Linked DNA regions of Homo sapiens. The protein of the gene in region 5 interacts with the protein of the main gene of each other region in a biochemical or structural test. Each region holds a gene or a part of one and is shown on either strand. Other genes may lie near its edges.

Region 1 (3,500 bases), on a different chromosome or scaffold from region 5:
TATGCTTCCCCCTCCCTGTTTCCCCCCCAGTAGCAAGCACACATATACACTTTCTCAGCAATAAAAAGCACCGCCGGGAAGGTGGACTCCATCCAGAAATGATCAGAGCCTAAGAGCCGTGCAGTAACGCATTTCCGAGAATGCCAGCTCAGCTCCTGAGAAAAGGGCCGGATGGGATGGTGCCTGCTCTGAAAGAGGGCAGAGAGGAGAGGGAAAACACTCCGGACTCTGGGTCAGACTGGCCCAGGTTCACATTATTCACCAGCCATGTTATCTTGGGCACCAGAGCCTATTTCTTGACATGCATGATGAGGATATTCCTTCTAGTAGCATCTCCCTTGGAGGGCTCTCAGGAGATTAAATGGGGTCGTGCGTGAAAAATGGCCAGCACAGTCTCCAGCACAGAGAAAAACCCCAAAACGCCAGAGCCGTAATACTATGGAGTCATTTAGGTTCCAGTGTTCTTTTTTTGGAAACCGGCCAGAAAAGAGGCTTTCTGGGTGGGAATGGGAGCGAAGTGCCCCCCCCCACCACCCCCTGCGACTGGTCAGTGTGGATTGATTAACCTGATCGTGGCGCTCTTTAAAGCCACCTTTGGACATTTTGCATTCTCCGTTCTCTCTGGAAGCTTTCAGGGGAAAAAAAATTCGTGGCCACTTGACCCATTTTTCTATTCCCTTGAGTCTAAGGTAAAAATTAATTCTCTTTCCTCCTTTGGTCCCTCCCTCTCTCTGTGGGTGACAAGGTGAGGGAGTTTTAAAGTATATAATTAGCTTCCCTCTTCCCCTTTTGCACTCCCTGTCTCTTCCTTTGGGGCCGGTCGAGAGTGCAGCCCAGGATGGCCACCCCAGGTGTCCACTGCAAACTCCACAGAAAAACTTTGCTCAACTTTTGGTTTAGAATTTAGGTACCCCCCTCCCCTTCCAAACTTTGGTCTTCTTTCTCCTCACTCCCTAAAAAAATAGGAAAAACAAGGAACATTCCTGGCGAGGGAACCATGAGTGGGCACAGCAACTTAGGTTTCAAAAACCACTGGGCCTCAGTTCTTATCTGAGTAGGGTGACCCTTCAGCCAGGGTTGCCTGGGACTATCCTGGGTTTAGCATCTCTGGAAACTCACAGTCCTGGGCAAACTGGGACGCTGGTCACCCTAATGGTGAGTTCTTAACACCTGAGAGAGAAGAATGGTGCAAGAGATGGTGCCGTTGACCAAGAAAGGGGGAGAGTCAGTTACTTATTCCCTCTGAAAAGCCAAGACTTTTTATTGGAATGAATGCAGCTTTTAGAAGCCGTCTTTAAGGCAGCTAATACAAGAGAGATTCCAGCTATGAAGGGAAATGCCTGAGTTAAGTCCGGATCAAGTTTTGACATCTCGCTTCGGTCAGACACGGCTTTATCTGCCGTTCAGACTGGGAGCAGCCGTGAGTCTTCCTTAAAGGTGCCTGTTGCTCAGGCGGCACCTGCAGTTAGAAATTAGCAGCCTCCCACCCCCAGCCCCCAAATAACAGGATTCAAGAGTCCCCTCTCTGAAGCCATGAGGGAAACCCAACTTAGTCACCCACTTGCCAGTAAATAATATTCATGCTGTTAAGTTCTGTTCTCATTTTAGGCCTATGTGTAAAAAATATATGTAATTTTAAACTGATTTTTAAAGTATTTTCATACGAACAGCATTTGCAGGAGGGCGAAGTCTGGATGTTACCTTTTTGTAAAAGTGGATGGATTTGTCTTCAATGAGACTCTGGGGCAGACTTAAAACTTGGCCCGCAGTGGTGTTACATGGATTCTGATCTTCCAGAGTCTGTCACGTTCTTTTATCTCCATGATCTTTATTATCTTCTTTATTGAGAATGATGGGCATGGTGTGTGTGGGTGGGAGGGCTATGCTGACCATCACTGCAGTGAAATGTGTTCGTGGCATGTTGTGGCGTCTGCATAGGAATGTGTCTGTTTGATTAACAGCACAAGCAGTGGAGGCTGTAAGGAGGAAAAGAGGAGGGAAGGTGATATTGGATGGAGGGGAGACATATAGAGCTTGGGAACAGTCCACCCTGGCTGCAAATCTCAGCTCCAGCTCACAGTTGTGGAGCCTCAGTCTTCTCCTCTGTAAAACGGGGACAGTAGTCCTATGTCCGAGGAATTGTAAGAAGGTTAAAAGATACTGTACCCAGAAAGCACATGGCATATATAATCATCCTGTGAAGTAGCCAACTCAATGAATTTTATTTTATTTATTTTGAGTCAGAGTCTCACTCTGTCACCCAGGCTGGAGTGCAGTGGCATGATCATGGCTCACTATAGCCTCGACCTCCTAGGCTCAAGCGATCCTCCTGCCTTAGCCTCCCGAGAAGCTGGGACTATAGGCATGCACCACCGTACCCAGCTTTAACAACATAAATTTATATATATATATATATATATATATATATATATATATATATATATATATATATATATATTTTTTTTTTTTTTTTTTTTTTTTTTTTTTTTTTGAGATGGAGTTTCATTCTTGTTGCCCAGGCTGGAGTGCAATGGCGCGATCTCGGCTCACTGCAACCTCCGCCTCCCGGGTTCAAGCAGGACGATGGGCATTTGGGATGTTTCTAGTTTGGGGTGGGGGATTGTTTGTTTGTTTGCTGTTATGAACAATGCTGCTGTAAGGAATCAATAATTTTGAATGAATGAATTCGAGGTGTTAATTTTAGTCTGTGTACTTGGAAATCTAGCTTCACCTAGAATCAGCTGAGATTCATCAGCATTTATGGCAGGAGCTAAGACATTTCACAGCTTACTCATCATTTTCTCTAAGAGGCTGGGTCAACCGGTTAGCTCTTGGTCCTGCTTGTATTCTGAGAGTCAGAACCTGTGGTTTAGACACTGGCAATTGATATGGTTGTAGAGAAGCAGCATGGTTGAGTTGAGAGCATGGATTCTGGAGCTAGGTGGCTGGGGTTCAAATCCCAGCTCTACTAGTCACTGGCTGCGTGATCTTGGGCAAGTCACTTAAGTGTTCTGTGCTTCAGTTTCCCAGTCTGTCCCAGTGGTGATTCTAATAGCTCCATGGGGATCCTAATAGCTCCTATCTGGGAGGATTAAATGAGTTAATACATCTGATGTTTAGAGTGGTGCCTGACACTTAGGAAGCACTATATGTGTTTATACATGGAAGAGTGGATAGATGGATGGACTTATGTGGGTGGCCATATTTGGGCTTCTCTGATCCACTGCTGAGAATAGTGTGTGGCACACAGTAGGTGCTGCATAAGTGTTAATATTCTGCTCTTTCTTGCCAAGTCTCTCAACTCCCTTGATCTCTGTTATTTTTGGCGTCTGTGTTGTTAACCCATTCTTCTGAATGATCAGCTGAATCACTGTTGCTCCAATATATAAGCCAAGGAGAACACAATCACAAGGTCTCATTGATTGTCCATACTAGAATTCCATGATTCCTAGGCCCAAGTAGGATTTTCCCCACGTCTCAGCAATCCTTCTTCCATGTTT
Region 2 (3,500 bases), on a different chromosome or scaffold from region 5:
CCATGTTGGCCAGGCTGGTCTTGAACTCCTGACCTCAAGTGTTCCACCCAACTTGGCCTCCCAAAGTGCTAGGATTACAGGCGTGAGCCACCGTGCTCAGCCATTTGCGTGATTTTTAAAGATGTGCAGAATAATGCCATTAAAAAAAATACACATACATGTATATATATACACGTTTGGCTGGGTGTGGTGGCTCACACCTGTAATCCCAGCACTTTGGGAGGCTGAGGCAGGAGGATCACTTGAGCCCAGGTGTACAAGACTAGCCTGGGCGAGATAGCAAGACCCCATCTCAACAACAGAAAGGATAATTAGGTATGGTGGCATGAGAGGATCACTTGAGCCCAGGAGTTCGAGTGTTATCAGGCCACTGCACTCTAGCCTGGACAACAAAGCAAGACCGTGTCTCAAAAAAATAAAAATAAAAAGTATTTGTATGTGGTCATAGTCAAAAAACGTACATGGAAGGAAAATGTCTTTATTTATTTATTTATTTTTTTTTTTTTAAGACAGAGTCTTGCTCTGTCACCCAGGCTGGGGTACAGTGGTGTAATCTCAGCTCACCGCAATCTCGGCCTCCCGGGTTCAAGCGATTCTTCTGCCTCAGCCTTCTAAGTAGCTGGGACTACAGGTACCCGCCACCACACCCTGCTAATTCTTGTGTTTTCAGTAGAGACAGGGTTTCACCATGTTGGCAAGGCTGGTCTCGAACTCCTGACCTTAAGTGAGCCACCCGCCTTGGCCTCCCAAAGTCCTGGGATTACAGGTGTGAGCCACTGCGCTTGGCCAGGAAATATCTAATTTAGTAAGTATTTATATCTGGGAAAGGAAGGGTCAGGTGGTGATTCATAGGAACTCTAAAGTCTATGTATAATACTTAGGGGGACAGAAGGAAATAAAGCAAAATGCTGATATTTGATTGTTGAGTTGTGTATATGTTAGAAGTATAACATAGGAGATCTGATTGATAGTAGGAGAATGTTTTTAGGTGGTAAAAGTGGAACCGTGGTGGTTTGTTTTGGCAGTAGAATCAGTTGGTCATAGTTTGTATGTGGAAGGTAATAAACAGACCATGTTAAGGATGACTTCCGGAATTTTGGTCTGAGTAGTGGGTGGATGACAGTGTCATTCATGAGGGAAGATGAAGACTGAGGTAGGAACAGGTTTGGGAGAAGATGACATGTTCCCTTTTAGACAAGTGGAATTATGGAAGATGGCAGGTAGGTGGTTAGCTATATGAATTTGAGATAAAAGATTTAGGATGGAGATATAAATTTAGGAGTAACAGCGTATCTATGGTATTGTAAGCCTTAAGAATGGGTAGGATCAGCCAGGAAATACAGATGTATATGCAGAAGAGAGGAGTCAAGGAAGCCAAGACAAGTTAATGTTTAAAGTGAGTGATGTAGTCCATGGGCAGATGCTGCTGAGAGGGCTGCAAACACCAGTGACCCTACAACATTTTTAAATGTCGTCTTCCTGACAGCAGTGATCAGTACCTGCAACGATCTTATTTATTTTTTTCATGTTAGTCTCCACACACTTGAATGTAGACTTTTTGAAGGCAAAATCATTGCCTTTTCTGAGCTGGGAGCATGTCTGGCACATACCAAGCACTCAACAGTTGATGTATTGACTTCATCCAGATACTCTGAGGGCGAGTTATTTCCTGCTACTAGCCTTTCACCTTTCAATGTTTAAGAGCACAAATACAGAGATGGGCACGTTTTGGCATTTCTTATTTTGATAACCTTTTCCTGGTAAGATTTTTTAATGTTGAAAAAAAAAAACAAGAAAAGAGGGTTAAAAATAGTCTTATGTCAGATCCTGTGATAGAATTCACACTTGGCTTAAGCTGCTGGGCACCTTCCTATCTTGGATGTCATATTAGCTTATCTACAGCAGAATTTTTACTGTTTTATGTAGTAAGGAAGCAATTATATGATTATTTTACAGACAAATTATTCTTTATCTTTTATTTTTTTAGACGGAGTCTCTCTTTGTCTCCCAGGCTGGAGTACAGTGTCGCGATCTCGGCTCACTGCAACCTCCGCCTCCTGGGTTCAAGCAATTCTCTGCCTCAGCCTCCCAAGTAGCTGGGCTTACAGGTGTCCGCCACCACACCCAGCTCATTGTTTTGTATTTTTAGTAGAGATGGGGTTTCACCATGTTGGCCAGGCTGGTCTTGAGCTACTGACCTCAGGTGATCCACCCGCCTTGGCATCCCAAAGTGCTGGAATTACAGGCGTGAGCCACCGTGCCTGGCCCAGACAAATTATTATACTCTGAGTGTTAGAGGCTTAGGATGTTTTCACTTGATGCTATGGGAGGAATAAGTAATAAGATATGATACACAACCAAAGACCTTTCTTCACTATGCTTCTAGTAGCTAGTACTATGGATGACACATGGTAATAATATTGGTTAGCATTTGTCCTCAATTTACTGTGCTAGTTACTCTTCTAAGCCCCTTACAGGTATATATTTTTTTTCATCAATAATCCTCTAAGGTAGTTTTTATTATTGACCTAATTTTATAAATCAAGAAAATTAAGACCCAGAGAAGTAAGTAACTTGTCCAAGATCACATGGCTTATAAGTGGTAGAGCCAGAATTTGACCCCAGATGTTGTGACTACATTGTCTCTCCATAAGCAGGTTCAACTCTTTTGACTGGATGCTGTTCCAAGGTCACTTCCTTAGAGAAGCCTTTGCTGACAACTACCCTCCTGTGCCCTCCTCCAAGGCTGTCCATTGTTCTAGAACTTTGAATACTCATCTTAGAATAAAGCTGGTCTAATTTTTACAGTGTTATAGAATGGATCTCTGACTGCAAAAGTTGGTCATAATTATCTTTTTATGTTCTAGTGAAAGGCAAAGAACAAGAGAAGACCTCAGATGTGAAGTCCATTAAAGGTAAGTTCTGCCCTTGGCAGTCCACTGCATTAAAAAGTGATGTGCTTTGCATTTGTGAGTTCTTTAATCCTGTTATACTCTCTCTTTTGGCATTAATCATTTCTGCCTTATTTTATAATTACTTATGATTTTGATTTATTTCCCTCTTTAACCTGTATAATGCTTTAACATCTAGCATATAATAAGTAGGCTTTTTTTTTTTTTTTTTTTTTGGAGACGGAGTCTTGCTCTGTTACCCAGGCTGGAGTGCAGTGGCGCGATCTTGGCTCACTGCAAGCTCTGTCTCCCGGGTTCACACCATTCTCCTGCCTCAGCCTCCCCAGCAGCTGGGACTACAGGTGCACGGCGCCACGCCTGGCTAATTTTTTGTATTTTTTAGTAGAGACAGAGTTTCACCATGTTAGCCAGTATGGTCTCGATCTCCTGACCTTGTGATCCGCCCGCCTCGGCCTCCCAAAGTGCTGGGATTACAAGCGTGAGCCACCGCACCCGGCCGTAAGTAGGCTTTTTTTACCTTAATTTTATTTTTTTGAGATGGAGTCTTGCTCTTATCCCCAGGCTGGAGTGCAGTGGTGCCATCTCGGC
Region 3 (3,500 bases), on a different chromosome or scaffold from region 5:
GCTTCCATCTGGTGACTTCCTCATCCACCTTGGTGTCCCCAGATGAGGAAGCAACTCCGTGACTTCCTTCTTCCTTTAACATTAACCCAGCACCTAATATGTGCTGGGCAGTGTGTTAAATGCTCCAGGTACATTTTCCAGTTTGCACAAATGGGATATTTGCTTTCAGCTGGGAGACATTGGGAAAAGCACTTCATAGCTCAGTCTCAGTTTTCCCATCTGTAAATTGGGACTGGTAATACTGATCTCTGAGTTGTTGTGAAGTTTGAGTTAATACATAGAACATGCTTAGCTCATAGAAAGTGCTCCAGAAATGTTTACTAATGCTTTTATTATTTGCGTTTTCACTCTCACAACAACCCCTAAGTGAGGTGCTAGTACTATCCCATTTTACAGATGCCTCATCAGGCCCCTTCACTGAATCCCTTTCCTCCCTCCCTCTGAACCTACAGAGGCTTCCTCCCTGTCCTCTCCTTGTCCCCTAAAAAGCAGTGGATCCTGTCTCACCAGCTCCAATCTGCTCTCCTGTGATTTTTTTTTTTTTTTTTTTTTGAGACAGAGTCTCACTCTGTTGCCCAGGCTGGAGTGCAGTGGTGTGACCTTAGATCACTGCAACCTCCGCCTCCCAGATTCAAGTGATTCTCCTGCCTCAGCCTCCTGAGTAGCTGGGATTACAGGCACCTGCCACCACACCCGGCTAATTTTTGTATTTTTAGTAGAGACAGGGTTTCACCATGTTGGCCAGGCTGCTATGAAACTTCTGACCTCAATCACCCCCCTCGGCCTCCCAAAGTGCTGGGACTACAGGCATGACCCACCATGCCCAGCCATCCTGTGACCTTTATCAGCATGAATGACACTGCATGTCATTCCCCTGCTCAAAACCTTCTACTAGTTCCAGCTTCCCTTGGGGTAAAGTGTGAATTCCTGAGCTTGGCATTCAAGGCTCTACCCAACCCAGGCCCTGCCAACCTCCCCCTCTCATTCATTGCTCTGCCAGGGCTTAGCCAACATTGTGGAGCAGCTGCCTCTCGGCCAGGGGGGCACATGGTGCTGTGAGCTCCATGAGCTTCTAGTTTTGGAAACCCACTTGGTGTGGTTTACCTGGAGTGTTCCCCTTCCTTGAACTCCTATTGATCCTTCAAGCTTCCATGCAAGTATCCCTTCCTCCATGAGGTCTTCTCTTATTACCTCTGTCAAATCCCAGGCAGCATGAGCAGCACTGCCTTGCTTCCCTTAATTGCCAGAGGTCCAGACCTTGATAATAAACAGCATTGTTGGCTGGGTGCTGTGGCTTATACCTGTAATCCCAGCACTTTAGGAGGCCAAGGTGGGCAGATCACTTGAGGCCAGAAGTTTGAGACCAGCCTGGCCAACATGGTGAAATCCCGTGTCTACTAAAAATACAAAAATTAGCCGAGCATGGTGACAGGCACCTGCAGTCCCAGCTACTAGGGAGGCTGAGGCAGGAGAATTGCTTGAACCTGGGAGGTGGAGGTTGCAGTGAGCTGAGATCGCACCACTGCACTCCAGCCTGGGCAATAGAGCAAGACTTTATCTCAAAAATAAATAAATAAATAAATAAATAAAGCATTGTTCATCACACTGTATTACATTTACTCAATTGCACTGTTTCCTAGACCGGATGATGGGCACACTGGAGCAAGGACTCTTTAATTTCTATACTTCCGGTGCCTAAACAGGTACTTGGCATACAGTGGGGTGACCCACATGTTTCCATCATTAATTAAACAAATAATGTTGAACCCACACCATGTGTCAGACACTGAGGATGCAATAGTAGCAAGAGAGATAAGGATGGAGGGTGGATAACAGCATGGGAGATGGATAACAGAATGGACACATGGATAAGATGGAGGATGAATGGAAGGATGGATGAGGGAAGGATGGACTGGATGGATGGATGGGAGAAAATAAATGAATGAAAGGATTAGTGAATTGATGGATGAATAGGGAAGAAGAAACGAGAGACGGATAGACAGATGAATGGATGGATGAATGGAATGGGGTGGAAGAGAGATGGAGGGATGGGATTGAGGATGGATGATGGATGGATGGATGGCAGGATGGGGTGGAAAAAAGGATAAGGGATGGATGGACGGACAGACAGATGGATGGGATGGGGTAGAAAAAAGGATGAGAGATGATGGAGAGGTGTAAATAGAAGGATGAGGAAAGATGGAGGAACTAAAGGAAGGGTGGGGAGAAAGATGGGAGAGAGATATCAGGATAAGGGAAAGATAGAGAAGAACACAGATGGAAGACTGGATGGATTGATGGGTGGATATATAGAAAGGTAGACAGATGGAAAGAGAGATGGAAGGTAGACCTTTACACAATGAGGGATGGATAGACAGATCTCGGGTACAGCAGAAAGATCTCCCCAATAAATGCCCACAAACCCTCTGGTCAGAGCAGGCCTTTCCTCCCAACCCCGGGCAGGTGGGCATCGTTGGCAGGACCGGGGCAGGGAAGTCCTCCCTGGCCAGTGGGCTGCTGCGGCTCCAGGAGGCAGCTGAGGGTGGGATCTGGATCGACGGGGTCCCCATTGCCCACGTGGGGCTGCACACACTGCGCTCCAGGATCAGCATCATCCCCCAGGTGAGGCTGGTGGAGGGGGTGGGCAAAGATGGGAGGCATGGTGGGACCCGGCTCTGACCCACCGCCCCTCCCCGCCAGGACCCCATCCTGTTCCCTGGCTCTCTGCGGATGAACCTCGACCTGCTGCAGGAGCACTCGGACGAGGCTATCTGGGCAGCCCTGGAGACGGTGCAGCTCAAAGCCTTGGTGGCCAGCCTGCCCGGCCAGCTGCAGTACAAGTGTGCTGACCGAGGCGAGGACCTGAGGTATGGTCGTCCCACCATGGCTGGGACCTGCAGGTGGGAGAGGAGGGGATGGCCATGCCCTCCCCAAGGGCCTTCAGGAAATGCCTCCCCCGATAGGATTATCACTCTGTTACATTAATAACCACATGTCTCTTATCTGCAATTCCAAGCTCTGACACAGTCTCTGAATACCAAGGTTTTCCCCCCTAAATTAGCAGTTAGTCTTCTATATTTACTTGGTGGCAAAACCCAACCTCAACTGACACAGGGCTACTGATAGCCTTTATTGCTCTTGCTCAGTATTTATTTTGCTATGAAAATATTGTTTGATATCGGGTGGTAACCTCACCACTCACTGGGACTATAATATAGGATTTTTTTTTTTGGTAAATGTCAAGTGTGGACTGGGCACAGTGGCTCATGCCTGTAATCCCAGCACTTCAGGAGGCTGAGAGAGGAGGATTGCTTGAGCCCAGGAGTTCGAGACTAGTCTGGGCAACATAGCAAGACCCTATCTCTGTGGACAACAGTATTAGCCAGGTATGGTGGCATGCACCTGTAGTCCTAGTTACTTGGGAGGCTGAGGTGGGAAGAACGCTTGAGCCAGGGAGGCGAAGGTTGCAGTGAGCCGATATTGCACCACTGCACTCCATC
Region 4 (3,500 bases), on a different chromosome or scaffold from region 5:
CCACTAAATGGACTAATTTGGTGAAGCACACTGAACACATCTCAGCTACGGACTGCAAGAGGAGGCAGTGTGACTCTAGAGAGCATGCTAGCAGGCCCAGCTCAGACAGAGTCCTGGGCATAAGCATACCTGGTATGGTGCAGTCTTCCAGTCTCGCAGTTGGACAAAACCAGATAATCTGGAAGGAAGAGAAGCTCTGACTCACTTCTGGTTTCCTCAGTGGCTACGGCATTAGTGTTTGGGTCATCTCTTGGCAAAGAGGAGCTGGCAGCATGGGCGGTAAGAAGGGAGCTGGCAGAGGATGGCTGCAGGGAGGAGGGCGTGTAAGAGAGGCTCTCCATGGAATCTGCTGGAGAAATCATTTCCCAGGTTAATGTTTAAGAATGGCTATAACACGCACTCAAAATTTCTCCAACAGCATCAAAGAAGCCAAACAGAAGATGCAAATCACAGCTGGTGTTTGTACTGATGGAGAAGACCATTTCCCCAAGCTATAAACAATGTCTGGGAAAGAAGGCCAATGTTTCAAGAGCAAAGTGTTGAATCAATTAAGAGTAAAAAACCCAGCATTCTTGGCCCAAAAATCTGCAGTTAATCTACGCACAGCTTCTTTATGGCCCTCAGCAGCAGCCTTGCCTCATTGTTTTTTCACTCAACTAACAAACATATATATATATATATATATATATATATATATATATATATATATGCATAACAAGTACATGCATATAGTTATATATGTACTTGTGCATATATGTATGTATACCTATACATGTTTATTATATAGGTATATGTCTATATAGAATACCTATTACATCTACCATGTGCCCAGAATGCCACTAACCCTCAATACAGCCAAGACAAAGATCCTGCCCTTATTGAAGTTTAGATTCTAGCAGAGAAGACAGACAAATAACACATAAATAAAGAGTCCTGTTCATCACTGTTATAAGTAAAGGGAAGGAAAGAAACACAGTGCTGTGGTGGCTGGAAAAGTCCATTTCTTTTTCTCAAGGAGCATAACATTCTCCCCATCACCTGAGAACATGGTCCTTAAGATGAATTTGAATCAGGAATCAATGAGAACTCCAGATCAGAAACAGCCAATGAAAAGCCTGCTTTTATTTCCCTTTTGAACCAAGTTAATAGTCCAGGATTCCTGAGTCAGGATGACCCAGAACTAACTAGGTTCAAGTCCAGGCTCTACTACATAGCCATTACTACATGGCCTGCCTTCTCCAAGTTTCCTTTTCTATAAAGTGGAGATAGTAATCACACATAGGCCATAGAACTGCTGTGGGGATGAGACAAGTTAATATACAAAAGCATTTCAACAGAGATCCTGGCCAGGGTACACACACAATGTGTTGACTACTATATGGTTGCTGGAGACAGAACCAAACACTCTGTGAAAAGTCACAAGAAAGCCCTTTGGGTGTAATTCTCAGATGAAGAGGACCCTGCTCTTATGTGGTTCTAAAAACTGAGGCGGGGGGCTACAGAGAATGGAAAGGGTCATAGGTGAGTTTTCTGGCTTCCTCCAACTTCATGCCGGGACAGGCTCTCCAGTTTCGGCCTGGTGCCTTACTCATTCCTGGTGCTCTTGGGTTATTGGGAAACATATTATATATGTATGTTTTAGGATAACTCCTGGATAAGGAAAGAAACAGAGGAGATATATAACACAGTATACGACGATATACCTAGTTAAGGCTGAAGGTGCACAACAGGGTGGTAAAGAGCCAGCAGCAAGGCTGGAGAAGTTAGTTGGTCAGGGAGGTTCTGCTTGATTTGCATAATGTCAGACTCTAGCCAGAACCTACTTAATGCTGCTTTTCCAATTAAGTTTTGTCCATTGTACCAAGGATAAAGAACTTGCCATCACTTCATTTCCTTTTATTTGAGTGCTCCCAATGCTCAGCAATATTATTGAATAGCCTCACTTAATATGCTTCCCTGGTTCATGAAACGAAAAGGAATGTGTTCTCAGAAAGCACACTCTTGTGCCTGTCCTGGAGGGAGATTCAATTCTGACTCTCCATTGCCACCTAGCGTTAGAGTGTGGATATTTCAGTGGCAGATGGTGGAAACCATGCAGTAACTCTTAAAATGTTGAAGCAACTATAGATTACAGGATTTAGGGGCAAAGTTTTGTCTACTAGACTAAGAGGCTAAAAGAAACCAGATTCAAAATCTCATATTTTGAGGAATAGGACATGTTGCAATAATGTCAGGGGCTCAACAACAAAATCCATGAAGGGAAGTTAATTGTAACCCTAGGTTACAATATACCTGGAAAATTACATAGGATGAGTTGTGTGTGTGTGCGTGTGTGCGTGTGTGCGTGTGGCAGAGAGAGAGAGAGAGAGAGAGAGAGACTCTGGGGTACTCTTCATGGGTCAATTGCTCCCACTGCCCAGAAATGGCCCAGAGCAAACTTACAACTAATTTCCTCTGCAGAGAACTTGAGACATTTGGAGGTATCAGGAAATCTTTCTTGCCTACGATAAGTAGCCAAGTTCTCTCTTTCTACCATTTAGTGATGAACAACCCAATAGGCACCAGAAATGCTGGAGTTCCACAATATTTTGAAGTATGGCAATATTTGATATTTCTAGAAGGTCATGAGTGTCAGCATCATGGGAAGACATCCTCATCCACATTTGACTTTCACTGTGGCTGAATGAGAGCAAAGACATGAAGGGGTTTTAAAGCCATTAAAGTAACCTGCAATGCTCAGTGTGCTCATGGACTCTGCCTTCCCACATTTGGACTGGGTAAAAGAGGGCAATTTCCAGTATTGTATTTGGTAGGAACAGTTCTGATATAAATTAGCCTGCCAAAACACCCTCAAGGAGGCAGGCTTGGCATCTTGAACTGTTTTTCTGCAGTAACCCTCCAGTCCTGGGATACCCCTTAGCACATGGGAGCCCCAACTCCGCTCTTACCTGCACCATCCTCCAGGTGGCCAAGGTTGCAGACCTGACTGATGCTGTGCACCCACACCTGCATTTCTTGCTCAGTTTTGGCCACCAGGTAGAATGTACGGGAAGTAGTCTTGACAATGAACACGAAATTATTCTGAAATTCCTTCCGAACAAAGCTGGGGCCCACATGCTTCCACACTGCACACTCGCTGAGGTCTATCACCCGGATGGGCTTGCTGGAGTGCTTGTTCCTGTAGTACTCCAAGACATCGGGGTTGCCGCTCATGCGGCCTCGCCGGAGGACAAACCAGCGCTTGCGCCAGGCCTGCAGAAAGGCAATTCAATAAGGAGTTACTGGACCAATTTCTCTTGTTTCTCAGGCTATGCCAAGAACCCATGTCATGACAAGGACAGCAGGAAGGAAACAAATCAGCCATTCTAATGATGAAACGCTTTGTATTACAGGACTAGTGCCCATCTTCAAGTCCGCTTTATTGGATGATTTTAAGGACGGGTCAGGATTGGAGAGTCTAGTAATGGGATTCACACCCACAGTTTGAAGGGCCAGAATTA
Region 5 (3,500 bases):
GATTAGAAGAATAGTGAAATACTAATAAGATCTATAGTTAGATGAGACATATAATTATTAAATTTCCTGATTTTGATAATAAAACTATGATTCTATAAGGGAATATCCCTGTTTTTTAGAAAATACACACTGAAATATTTAGAAGTAAAGGGACATCTACCTGAAACTTACTCTCAAGTGTATCAGAAAAAAACCTATAAATGTGGTAAAATGTTAACACTTGAGGAATTTGGGTGAAGGGTACATGAAACTCCCTGTACTATTCTTGTAACTTCTATTTAAGTCTGAAATTAGTTTGAAAAAAATAAGAAAGCACAAGGTTTAAAAACCATGACCCTTACTGATACTCAGTGTGAATGTCAAATTTAGGCTGATATTATTTCAAACAAACAAGTAACAACAACAAAAATGTCCAAAGACTTGAGGAGGAAGTTAAAGGACAAGGCGAGTAAAATAAGAATATTGGGGAGTTGCTACCTACTTTTTTTTTTTTTAAACAAATAGTATTTCAAAACGGATCAAAGGGCAACTAATCATTAAAAAGGGGCCAAGACTACACAATAGGGAAAGGCTAGTGTCTTAAATAAATGGTGCTGGAAAATCTGGATATCCACATGCAAGAGAACGAAACTAAACCCTTATCTTATACAAAATTAACTTGAAATAGACTAAAGACTTAAATGTAAAACCAGAACCATAAAACTCCTAGAAGAAAACACAGGGAAAAAAGCGCCTTCACACTGGTCTTGGATGATTTTTTGGAAAGCACAGGCAGCAAAATAAAAAATCATCAAGTGGGATATTAAATAAAAAATCTACACAGCAAAGGAACAATCAACAAAATGAAAAGGCAACCTATGGAAGAGGAGAAAATATTTCCAAACATGCAATTGGTAAGGGGTTAATATCCAAAATATATAAGAAAATCATTAGCAAAATACCAAATAATCCATTTAAAAAATGGGCAAAGGACTGGAATCGACATTTTTCCAAAGAAGACATACAGATGGCCAGCAGGTATCAGTAAAAGTGCTCAACCTCATTAATCAGAGCAACAGAAACCAAAACCATAATGAGGCTGGGTGCAGTGGCTCACGCCTGCCATCCTAACACTTTGGGAGGCTGAGACGGGCAGATCACTTGAGGCCAGGAGTTTGAGACCAGTCTGACCAACATGGCAAAACCCTGTCTCTACTAAAAATACAAAAATTAGCCGGGTGTGGTGGCATGTGCCTGTAATCCCAGCTATTCAGGAGGCTGAGGCATGAGAATCGCTTGAACCCAGGAGGCAGAGGTTGCAGTGAGCTGAGATCATGCCACTGTACTCCAGCCTGGGTGACAGAGCAAGACTCTGTCACAAACACACACGCAAACCATAATGAAATATCACCTTAGACCTGTGTGGATGGCTGTTATCAAAAAGATAAGAGATAACAAGTAGGCAATGGTATGAAGAAAAGGGAACCCTGTACACTGTTGGTGGGAATGTAAATGAGTAAAGCCATCACAGAAAATAGTGTGGACATTCCTCAAGAAATTATTATTACTATTATTATTTTTGAGACAGAGTTTCACTCTTGTTGCCCAGGCTGGAGTGCAATTGTGCGATCTTGGCTCACTGCAACCTCCGCTTCCCAGGTTCAAGCAATTCTCCTGCCTCAACCTTCCAAGTAGTTGGGATTACAGGCATGCACCACCACGCCCGGCTAATTTTGTATTTTTAGTAGAGAAAAGGGGTTTCGCCATGTTGGTCAGGCTGGTCTCGGACTCCTGACCTCAGGGGACCTGCCCACCTGGGCCTCCAAAAATGCTGGGATTACAGGCATGAACCACTGTGCCCAGCCACCTCAAAAAATTAAAAACTGAGTTATTATATGATCTAGCAATCCCACTACTCGATATATATACAAAGGAAAGGAAATTGGGCCAGGCGTGGTGGCTCACACCTGTAATTCCAGCACTCTGGGAGGCTGAAGCAGGCGGATCACTTGAGGTCAGGAGTTTGAGACCAGCACGGCCAACCCTGTAACCCTGTCTCTACTAAAAATACAAAAATTAGCTGGGTGTGGTGGCATGTGCCTCTAGTCCCTGCTACTTGGGAGGCTAAGGCAGGAGAATCAACAGAACCCAGGAGGCGATGGTTGCAGCAAGCTGAGATCACACCCGCATTCCAGCCTGGACAACAGAGTGAGACTCTGTCTCAAAACAAAACAATAAAAAACAAAAAGCCAACAACAACAAAAAGAAAACCAAAGGAAAATAAATCAGTATGTTGAAATCTGCACTCCTATGTTCACTGCAACATAATCAACAATAGCCCAGATATGAAAATCACCTAAGAGTCTGTCAAAAGATGAATGAGCCGGGCCCGATGGCTCACGCCTGTAGTCCCGGCACTTTGGGAGGCCAAGGCGGGCGGATCACCTGAGGTCAAGAGTTCGACTAGCCTGACCAACATGGGGAAACCCCATCTCTACTAAAAATACAAAATTAGCTGGGCATGGTGGCACATGCCTGTAATCCCAGCTACTCAGGAGGCTGAGGCAGGAGAATCGCTTGAACCCGGGAGGTTGTGGTGAGCTGAGATCATGCCATTGCACTCCAGCCTGGGCAGCAAGAGCAAAACTCCATCTCCAAAAACAAAAAAGATGAATGAATAAAGAGAATATTGTAGGCCAGGTGCAGTGCACCTATAATCCAAGCACTCTGGGAGGCCGAGGAAGAACGATTGCTTGAGCCTAGGAGTTTGAGACCAGCCTAGGCAACATAGCGAGACCCTGTCTCTACAAAAATAAAAAATTAGCCAGGTGTGGTGTTGCACGCCTGTAGTCCCAGCTACTAAGGAAGCTGAAGAGAGAGAATTGCTTGAGCCCAGGAGGTTGAGGCTGCAGTGAGCCATGATCATGACACTGTACTCCAGCCTGGGCAAGAACAAAACCCTGCCTCAAAAACAAACAAACAAAACCAAAAACAGGCCGGGCACGGTGGCTCACGCCTGTAATCCCAGCAATTTGGGAGGCCGAGTCGGGTGGATCACGAGGTCAGGAGATCAAGACCGTCCTGGCTAACATGGTGAAACCCCATCTCTACTAAAAATACAAAAAATTAGCTGGGCGTGGTGGCAGCTGCCTGTAGTCCCAGCTACTCGGGAGGCTGAGGCAGGAGAATGGCGTGAACACGGAAGGCGGAGGTTGCAGTGAGCCGAGATTGCGCCACTGCACTCCAGCCTGGGCGACAGAGCCAGACTCCATTTCAAAAAAAAACAACAACAAAAAAAACCCCCAAAAAAACCCAACAACAAACAACAACAAATATATATATATATGTATGTATGTATGCATGCATATGGTATATATACAACAATGGAATATTTTATTAGGCCATAAAAATGAAAATCCTATCATCTGCAACAACCAACATGAGTGAATGTGGAGGACCTTATGCTATATGAAATAAGCCAGACACAGAAAAGCAAATACTGTATTTCATTTATACGTGGA
Region 6 (3,500 bases), on a different chromosome or scaffold from region 5:
GGCCTAAGCGATCCTCTGGCCTCAGCCTTTTGGTGTTAGGATTGCAGGCGTGAGCCATCATACCTGGCCCCTGTTTTATTTTTTTAGCATCACTATTGAAAACATAAGGCGATTATTATTTAAATCTGATCAGTTTTTACTGAAGTTTGATCAGTTTCCATCACCTTTCAATTGACAGTTATATTTGAATGGATGTCATTAAGAATTAGGTTTAAAAAAACACAAAATGAGGAGAAAGCCTACTGAACGTACAGTTTATCCTAAAGAAAGCCAGGAATAGAACAGAGGGGAGAGCAGCCTAGAGAAACAGTGATTCAAAAAATGTTTCCCAGTTGTAAACGCAGTACAGACAGTTTAACAGAAAATAAAGAAGAAAGTAAATATCACTTACTTCTGATCATTCTGAAATACTACTACTAGAATCTTGGTGTGCTTCATCTCAGATGTTTTTTCTTTGCATACATGTGATCCTAATAAGATTATAATCATATTCTAGTATTATATCATGATTTTCACTAAACTTTAAAGTGTTTTCCCTCTATTATGCAGTAGTTTGAAAACACTCTTAATGGCTGAATTTTTTTCCTTCAGAGGATATATCATATGCTGTCAAAAATTTTTGTTAAATATTTCCCCCTCATCCAGTAGCAGTACCTACATGTGAAATGGTAGGGCAGCACTTTTTAATCCTTGGCAATCTCTTTTTACCCATGGATTTTTCATAAAAATTGGCCAAAGAGTCAAGCTGGTGCTGACCAATTCATTTCTTCAGAGTGTACCTTTAACTGTTTTTCAGATCTCATAGGATTGTTGGAATATAAAGAAGGCCACTGTGAAGACCAGGCCTCAGGGGCAGTTTGCCGTTCCCTCTCCACACCACAATTTAATTCCCTTGATGTCATTGCAGATGTGAATCCCAAGTACCAGTGTGATCTGGTGTCTAAAAACGGGAATGATGTATATCGCTATCCCAGTCCACTTCATGCTGTGGCTGTGCAGAGCCCAATGTTTCTCCTTTGTCTGACGGGCAACCCTCTGAGGGAAGAGGACAGGCTTGGAAACCATGCCAGTGACATTTGCGGTGGATCTGAGCTAGATGCCGTCAAAACAGACAGTTCCTTACCGTCCCCAAGCAGTCTGTGGTCTGCTTCCCATCCTTCATCCAGCAAGAAAATGGATGGCTACATTCTGAGCCTGGTCCAGAAAAAAACACACCCTGTAAGGACCAACAAACCAAGAACCAGCGTGAACGCTGACCCCACGAAAGGGCTTCTGAGGAACGGGAGCGTTTGTGTCAGAGCCCCGGGCGGTGTCTCACAGGGCAACAGTGTGAACCTTAAGAATTCGAAACAGGCGTGTCTGCCCTCTGGCGGGATACCTTCTCTGAACAATGGGACATTCTCCCCACCGAAGCAGTGGTCGAAAGAATCAAAGGCCGAACAAGCCGAAAGCAAGAGGGTGCCCCTGCCAGAGGGCTGCCCCTCAGGCGCTGCCTCCGACCTTCAGAGTAAGCACCTGCCAAAAACGGCCAAGCCAGCCTCGCAAGAACATGCTCGGTGTTCCGCCATTGGGACAGGGGAGTCCCCTAAGGAAAGCGCTCAGCTCTCAGGGGCCTCTCCAAAAGAGAGTCCTAGCAGAGGCCCTGCCCCGCCGCAGGAGAACAAAGTTGTACAGCCCCTGAAAAAGATGTCACAGAAAAACAGCCTGCAGGGCGTCCCCCCGGCCACTCCTCCCCTGCTGTCTACAGCTTTCCCCGTGGAAGAGAGGCCTGCCTTGGATTTCAAGAGCGAGGGCTCTTCCCAAAGCCTGGAGGAAGCGCACCTGGTCAAGGCCCAGTTTATCCCGGGGCAGCAGCCCAGTGTCAGGCTCCACCGGGGCCACAGGAACATGGGCGTCGTGAAGAACTCCAGCCTGAAGCACCGCGGCCCAGCCCTCCAGGGGCTGGAGAACGGCTTGCCCACCGTCAGGGAGAAAACGCGGGCCGGGAGCAAGAAGTGTCGCTTCCCAGATGACTTGGATACAAATAAGAAACTCAAGAAAGCCTCCTCCAAGGGGAGGAAGAGTGGGGGCGGGCCCGAGGCTGGTGTTCCCGGCAGGCCCGCGGGCGGGGGCCACAGGGCGGGGAGCAGGGCGCATGGCCACGGACGGGAGGCGGTGGTGGCCAAACCTAAGCACAAGCGAACTGACTACCGGCGGTGGAAGTCCTCGGCCGAGATTTCCTACGAAGAGGCCCTGAGGAGGGCCCGGCGCGGTCGCCGGGAGAATGTGGGGCTGTACCCCGCGCCTGTGCCTCTGCCCTACGCCAGCCCCTACGCCTACGTGGCTAGCGACTCCGAGTACTCGGCCGAGTGCGAGTCCCTGTTCCACTCCACCGTGGTGGACACCAGTGAGGACGAGCAGAGCAATTACACCACCAACTGCTTCGGGGACAGCGAGTCGAGTGTGAGCGAGGGCGAGTTCGTGGGGGAGAGCACAACCACCAGCGACTCTGAAGAAAGCGGGGGCTTAATTTGGTCCCAGTTTGTCCAGACTCTGCCCATTCAAACGGTAACGGCCCCAGACCTTCACAACCACCCCGCAAAAACCTTTGTCAAAATTAAGGCCTCACATAACCTCAAGAAGAAGATCCTCCGCTTTCGGTCTGGCTCTTTGAAACTGATGACGACGGTTTGAGTGACATCATTGGTGTAGAAAGTTTGTGTGTTTTTTTTTCTTCTCCCTAGTTGCCAAAATTAAAAAGGTGGTGTTTTCATTTTTGTATAATACTTTAATGGAATGCTTTTTAAAAAAATATAAAACCAAGGTAAATTATTGTTTCATCTTCACGTATGGATGCTAGTGCCTTTAATGGAAGGTAAAGAATGTTTTGCTAGTTAGAAGTACATATTGAGGTTTTAATGGTGGTGATAGTGAGTTTTGTGGCACCAGCTGTTTTTTATTTTAAACTTTCTGAGCATCCGGCAAGGTACAGGTTTTGATGTTCAAGTTTTATTGGGATAAGATCTTTTGATCCCAAGGTCAGGTGGATGGAATTTTTGGATTTATATTTGTTCCTTGAGTCTTCAGGGCAGTGTCTCCATGAGGGTTTTCCTGTTGAGGGGCACCACATACAATAGTGTGAAGTAGGTATGAGGGGCAGTCATTGTATTCTATAGTTTTTTTATGTAGTCTACATTTCTCAGATGTATCCCCATTCGGTTTTATTCTCAGAACTGTTACTAGACTCATGACTTGGAGGCCAAACCTTAAATCCAGAGATAGCAGCCTCGATAGGGACCTTAAAAGGATTCACAAAAACTTTTGCCACACTTGGTGCCTAGGCCCTGTTCCTAATAACCCCTTCTAGGGCCGTTTATCCAACATTTAGATGCCTTCTTTTCCCTCCCTAATTTGTAGCCAGTCCAACCTTTCATTCCTTGGAGGATTTAGTTTTGGGATAAAATTTTGGTCCTTGGGCACAGAGACATTCACTATTAATGAAGTAACCCTTGGGCATGACT
Region 7 (4,227 bases), on a different chromosome or scaffold from region 5:
GAAATTTCAGCAGTAAGTAGTCTGGGATTTGAAATATACAGGTAATTATATCATTCATTCTCTTCCAGTCATATGTATACACGATACACAAACTATCTTGGCTACCCAATTGATCTTTTCAAATAGCTCTAAAATGCGTCACCAACAGGTATGAAAACAAGGTATTCGACTTACATTTAAAAAAAATTTTCAAATCACAGCTAACAATGTTAACCTAACTTCAAAGAAGCCACATTTTAGGCTGGAAAGATTTTTAAAGGACTGGTGTACTGGACAACTAATAATGTGTGTCAGAATAGGTGCATCATATATTCTACTTGCTTCAGTGGACCTAAACTATGGAGAGAGGGGAAACTGCAAGAATATAACTGGGAGGGTGGGAGGTGGAGACTGAGTATGCAGCACTCACTACAGGCATCATGGGAATTTGCGAAAGGTAGTCTATGAAGGTAATCAGACTCCCATGGAGCCAAGATAGCTTGTCTTTTAATATTTCAGCAACAGACTCAAACTAAAGTAACCTTTTAGACAAATTCAAAGAACGGGGTTTTAAGCATTGTTGCTTCCTGTATATACTCTGGCTCTTTCTTCCATCACTGAGAAACGGAGAAGGTGGAGAGTGAGGATAATTGGTGGGAATCTAAGATATTGGAATTTCAATAGCAAATACATAAAGAGAAAAAGCAGCAGCAAAGATGAGCCACTGCAGGACTTTGTCTTAGTCATCTTTATATCCCCCATGGCACCTTAGCACAATGCACTGCACACAGGGGTGCAGTCGATAAATAATGTATTAGGTTTAATTCAATTCACTCACATTTGTACTGCTTAGCAGTTACAAAGCAGTTTCCACATATTAGAAAAGAAAAGCAAAGTAAATGAGGAATAAAGGGGCAAGTAAGGGAATAAAAGGAAAGCAAAATAAAGAAAAATCCACAAGAATAAGCAAGCGGCCAAAAAGGCTGGGGAAAAGAATGAGCAAAAAAAATCAGTTTCTCCCTGTCACTCTCAATCCCTCCCAATCACCTCACCTTTCGTTCTAAATTATCTGGAGCTTAGAAAGTCTGACTGTTAAGTAAGCCCAAGAAGGGGCTCCTTCATCGTAGGAACGGGCATTTTCAGCGATAATAAGCCTTTGGTCCCTGACTGATCTACCTAGAGTTTGCTCAGGTATGACCTCGAGCAAAGCGCTAACATTTCCCAAGTGTGGCCACGCATCCTTTATTCCATTCCATCCCATCCATCCCCTCTTCAATTCCCAAAATCTTAGGGAAGAGTTGGGCCTGAGGATCCAAGGGGTTGGTGGGTGGGGGAGTCCTCTACAAGCCCCTTAACTCAGACAACAGAGGGAGGTAGTGAGACAGGAAAGCCCAGGGATCAGAAAAAAAGCTCACGTTTGCGATTAGGAGGGTGAGTGTCTATAACTGTGGTTATTATAAATCGCCAGGGACAAAAGGGGGAACCTTCAAGATGGAAGAAATGTGAAGGTACCTGAATGCGCATCACCTTACATCTGGCGTTGAGCCCTTAATAAAAAGCCGTGAGGTCCAAAACCTCGACTGGCTTGAAAGGGAGAAAGCAGAGAAGGCAAAGGATGCGAGGGGATGCGCTGGAGGCAGCCCAGAGACAGCAGCAAGGATGCTGTCCCAGGGGAAGCATGATGTCCTCACCCTCAAAGTAGCACATACCCCCACCCTGGGCATCCTCAGCCAAATCTGGGTGTGGGGGGATGCCAGGCTCCGAATGGGGGCGGCCGCGTCCTGACCCCATTATGTGGGCTAAAAGTTGCTTGGGAGAGTTGGCGCTGGGGAAGGCACCTGGCAAGGGCGGCCGCCGAGGGGGCGTCAGCTTTCCCAGGAACAAAGGGGCCAGGAAAGGGCGACCAGGGGAGCAGGTCCTGGGGGAGTCCACCCTGAGCTGGGAGATAAGGGTCGCCACGTCCTCCTGGCCCGGGGGCAGTAAGGGGAGAGGGGAGTACGCAAGATGCGCCGGTATTCTGCCTCCCGACTTCCTGCCTCCAACGGGGTGGCGCCCGCTGCCCTCTAGCTCTCTGGCCGCTCCGCGCCCCTCTAGCTGGAGACAAAAGGAGACCGGGGACCCCAGGCCCCTGCCAGTCCTGGAGGACCCCCGCCCCGACGCGTACGACGATCCGCCAGTGGAAGCCGCGGTGGCGGGCTCTGGCGCGGCGGGCGCCCCCTCCTAACCTCGCACTGGTGCCCCGCGCCCCAGTGCCGCCTCACCCTCCCCGCAGCGGGCATTACCTTTCATCCAGTCCACTACTTGACTCGGAGACCATTTGCTCACCGGTTCCATTATCAGAGCCATGGGTACGGGGTCGGTTCCGTGCAGAGCGCAGAGCTCAGACACAAAACGAACTCAGCAGCCCGAGCTGCTCTCAGGTGGGGTCCCTTGCTGGCCGCAGCCTCCCTGGGCGGGCGGCGCGGAGAAAGCGGCTTTTGTGTGTCGGGTCTCGCGGCTGTAACGTCTTTTAGCCAACCGCCGGCAGGAACGGCGACAGGGAGGTAAACGTGCAGGAGTCGTGGCTCCGCGCCGGGTCTGCTCAGTTCCCGCTAAGGCGGCGGCGGCGGCGGCTGCTGCTGCTGCTGCTGCTGCTGCTGCTGCTGCTGCCTCCGCCGCTCCGCTCCGGTCTCCGTCCCTAGGGAGCTTCAGTTCATAGCTTGAGTTGCTGAGGGGTCGCGTCGCCGAGGGAAGCAGCCTCTGCCGCACGCCCTCAGCCAACTTGCCCGCTCGCCTCACGCGCGGGAGTGAAGCCCCGAGCACGACTAGCTGCCCGGCGGAAATGACGAGGGGCCTCCTGCCACCCAAAATATCTCTCCGCAGCCCTCGGGTGCGGGGCGCGCGCGCCACGAGCCCCCCGCCCGCTCGCTGCCGCGCGGTCCCGCCCCCAGGGCCGACGGCAGGCGCGCGAGGCGCGTGCGCGTGCGCGTGCCGGCACGAGGCCGGAGCCCAGGGTCTGTCTGGCAGGCAGACAGGTGCCAGCAGCTCGCAGCCTGGCGTTCCCGCTCTGGGGGCCGTCCGGGAACAGAGGCGCGCGAAGTGCGCGTGCGCGGCGGCGGAGGCGGTGGCGGCGCGAGGCAGAGCCAGAGCCCGGGGTCGGTCAATCAGGTGCGGGCGGCTGGAGCATGGCTTTGTGAGGCCTCTGAGGGGACCCGGCGGTGGCGGCCACGGCGGGACGGGCCGCCCACCAGTTGAACTCCGACAGCTGAGGCGGCTGAGGAGGTATCCGCGGCCCCACCACCGAGGGGAGGGGGACACCACTGAGCGCGGGGCTTACAGCGAGAGCCCGGGCTTTCCTGGCTCTCGCTTTCGCCCTCGCCCTCCCCGCTGCTGAGTGGGCTCCGGAGGTGATTCCCGAGACCCGCGTACGCCTGCAGAGACGGAGGTGTGGACTGCCGTGGACGAGAACGGGGCTCCGCCTGCCAGAAGCGCAGCGATGATGAGGCAGGAGGGCTAGTGCTGTCGGATCTTCCCCGGGTGATGAGCGGGTCCTGGGAAGTCAGGCGTTGAGGCTGTCACCTGCCAGCTGCTGGTTGTGGTGATCCTGAGACAGGTTCTGCCCCAAGTACCATTTTAAAGGGCTCTGTTTCAGGTTTTGGGCCAACTCCTCTAAAGTACCTATTTTAGAGAAGTCATTTTGTGTTTGATATTCTTATATATTAATAAGAACCGAAGGGCAACAATGGGATTTAAAATGAGTGACAAATTGTAGACATGATTTTTCAAAACTCATTTTCTTCAAAAACCATACACAGGCTACTATGCAACGGTTAGTAAAATACAGTTTGCCTAATGAGGCTTCACTTTAAAAGACAAATATTCCTAGAGTGTAGATGCTAACTCTCTGCCACCGTTATAGGCGTTTTCTCTATCATTCTTAAATAGGTCCATTAAGTAAAAGAAACTTTTTAAATAAGCATTCCAGTAATGTCAATAGGTTTTGCCAGTTCCTATGGTAACCCATTTTCTCTAGTCCAATTTTATAAGATGCAGAAATGTCACGTTCTTTAACCGGCATGAGTTGACGACACCCTTCCCCCCCACACACACACACACAAACAGCTGAAACCACAGTAGTTAAAATATTGTGACGTTTTTAACTGCTGATTTCAATGCTAGTGATAGCGAACAAGTAAAATTTAAGATGGCCTGTATTTAGGCTTCTTTATTTTTCTAACTATCCAAACTTAGAAGTATATGCAGAATTTT

What was found.
Region 1: the proteins of DLG1 (region 5) and CACNA1A interact in a test that uses a peptide from one of them, tested with the Homo sapiens proteins (one large-scale study listed by IntAct).
Region 2: the proteins of DLG1 (region 5) and AKAP10 interact in a test that uses a peptide from one of them, tested with the Homo sapiens proteins (one large-scale study listed by IntAct).
Region 3: the proteins of DLG1 (region 5) and ABCC6 interact in a test that uses a peptide from one of them, tested with the Homo sapiens proteins (one large-scale study listed by IntAct).
Region 4: the proteins of DLG1 (region 5) and GAB3 interact in a test that uses a peptide from one of them, tested with the Homo sapiens proteins (one large-scale study listed by IntAct).
Region 6: the proteins of DLG1 (region 5) and DACT1 interact in a test that uses a peptide from one of them, tested with the Homo sapiens proteins (one large-scale study listed by IntAct).
Region 7: the proteins of DLG1 (region 5) and CNKSR2 interact in a test that uses a peptide from one of them, tested with the Homo sapiens proteins (one large-scale study listed by IntAct).

Annotation. Positions count from the first base shown.
Region 1 is NC_000019.10:13,496,480-13,499,979, reverse strand, and holds part of CACNA1A (voltage-dependent P/Q-type calcium channel subunit alpha-1A), read left to right. Parts: intron 1-3,500.
Region 2 is NC_000017.11:19,967,829-19,971,328, reverse strand, and holds part of AKAP10 (A-kinase anchor protein 10, mitochondrial isoform 1 precursor), read left to right. Parts: intron 1-2,867; coding exon 2,868-2,915; intron 2,916-3,500. UniProt on the Homo sapiens protein: Differentially targeted protein that binds to type I and II regulatory subunits of protein kinase A and anchors them to the mitochondria or the plasma membrane.
Region 3 is NC_000016.10:16,153,995-16,157,494, reverse strand, and holds part of ABCC6 (ATP-binding cassette sub-family C member 6), read left to right. Parts: intron 1-1,640; exon of another isoform or gene 1,641-1,703; intron 1,704-2,463; coding exon 2,464-2,622; intron 2,623-2,700; coding exon 2,701-2,867; intron 2,868-3,500.
Region 4 is NC_000023.11:154,713,078-154,716,577, forward strand, and holds part of GAB3 (GRB2-associated-binding protein 3), read right to left. Parts: intron 3,253-3,500; coding exon 2,949-3,252; intron 350-2,948; coding exon 130-349; intron 1-129.
Region 5 is NC_000003.12:197,047,113-197,050,612, forward strand, and holds part of DLG1 (disks large homolog 1), read right to left. Parts: intron 1-3,500. UniProt on the Homo sapiens protein: Essential multidomain scaffolding protein required for normal development. Recruits channels, receptors and signaling molecules to discrete plasma membrane domains in polarized cells.
Region 6 is NC_000014.9:58,644,462-58,647,961, forward strand, and holds part of DACT1 (dapper homolog 1), read left to right. Parts: intron 1-796; coding exon of another isoform or gene 797-907; coding exon 908-2,673; 3' UTR 2,674-3,500.
Region 7 is NC_000023.11:21,372,996-21,377,222, reverse strand, and holds the start of CNKSR2 (connector enhancer of kinase suppressor of ras 2), read right to left. Parts: upstream 2,801-4,227; 5' UTR 2,326-2,800; coding exon 2,262-2,325; intron 1-2,261. Other genes in the region: uncharacterized protein LOC105373146, read left to right, coding at 2,801-3,240.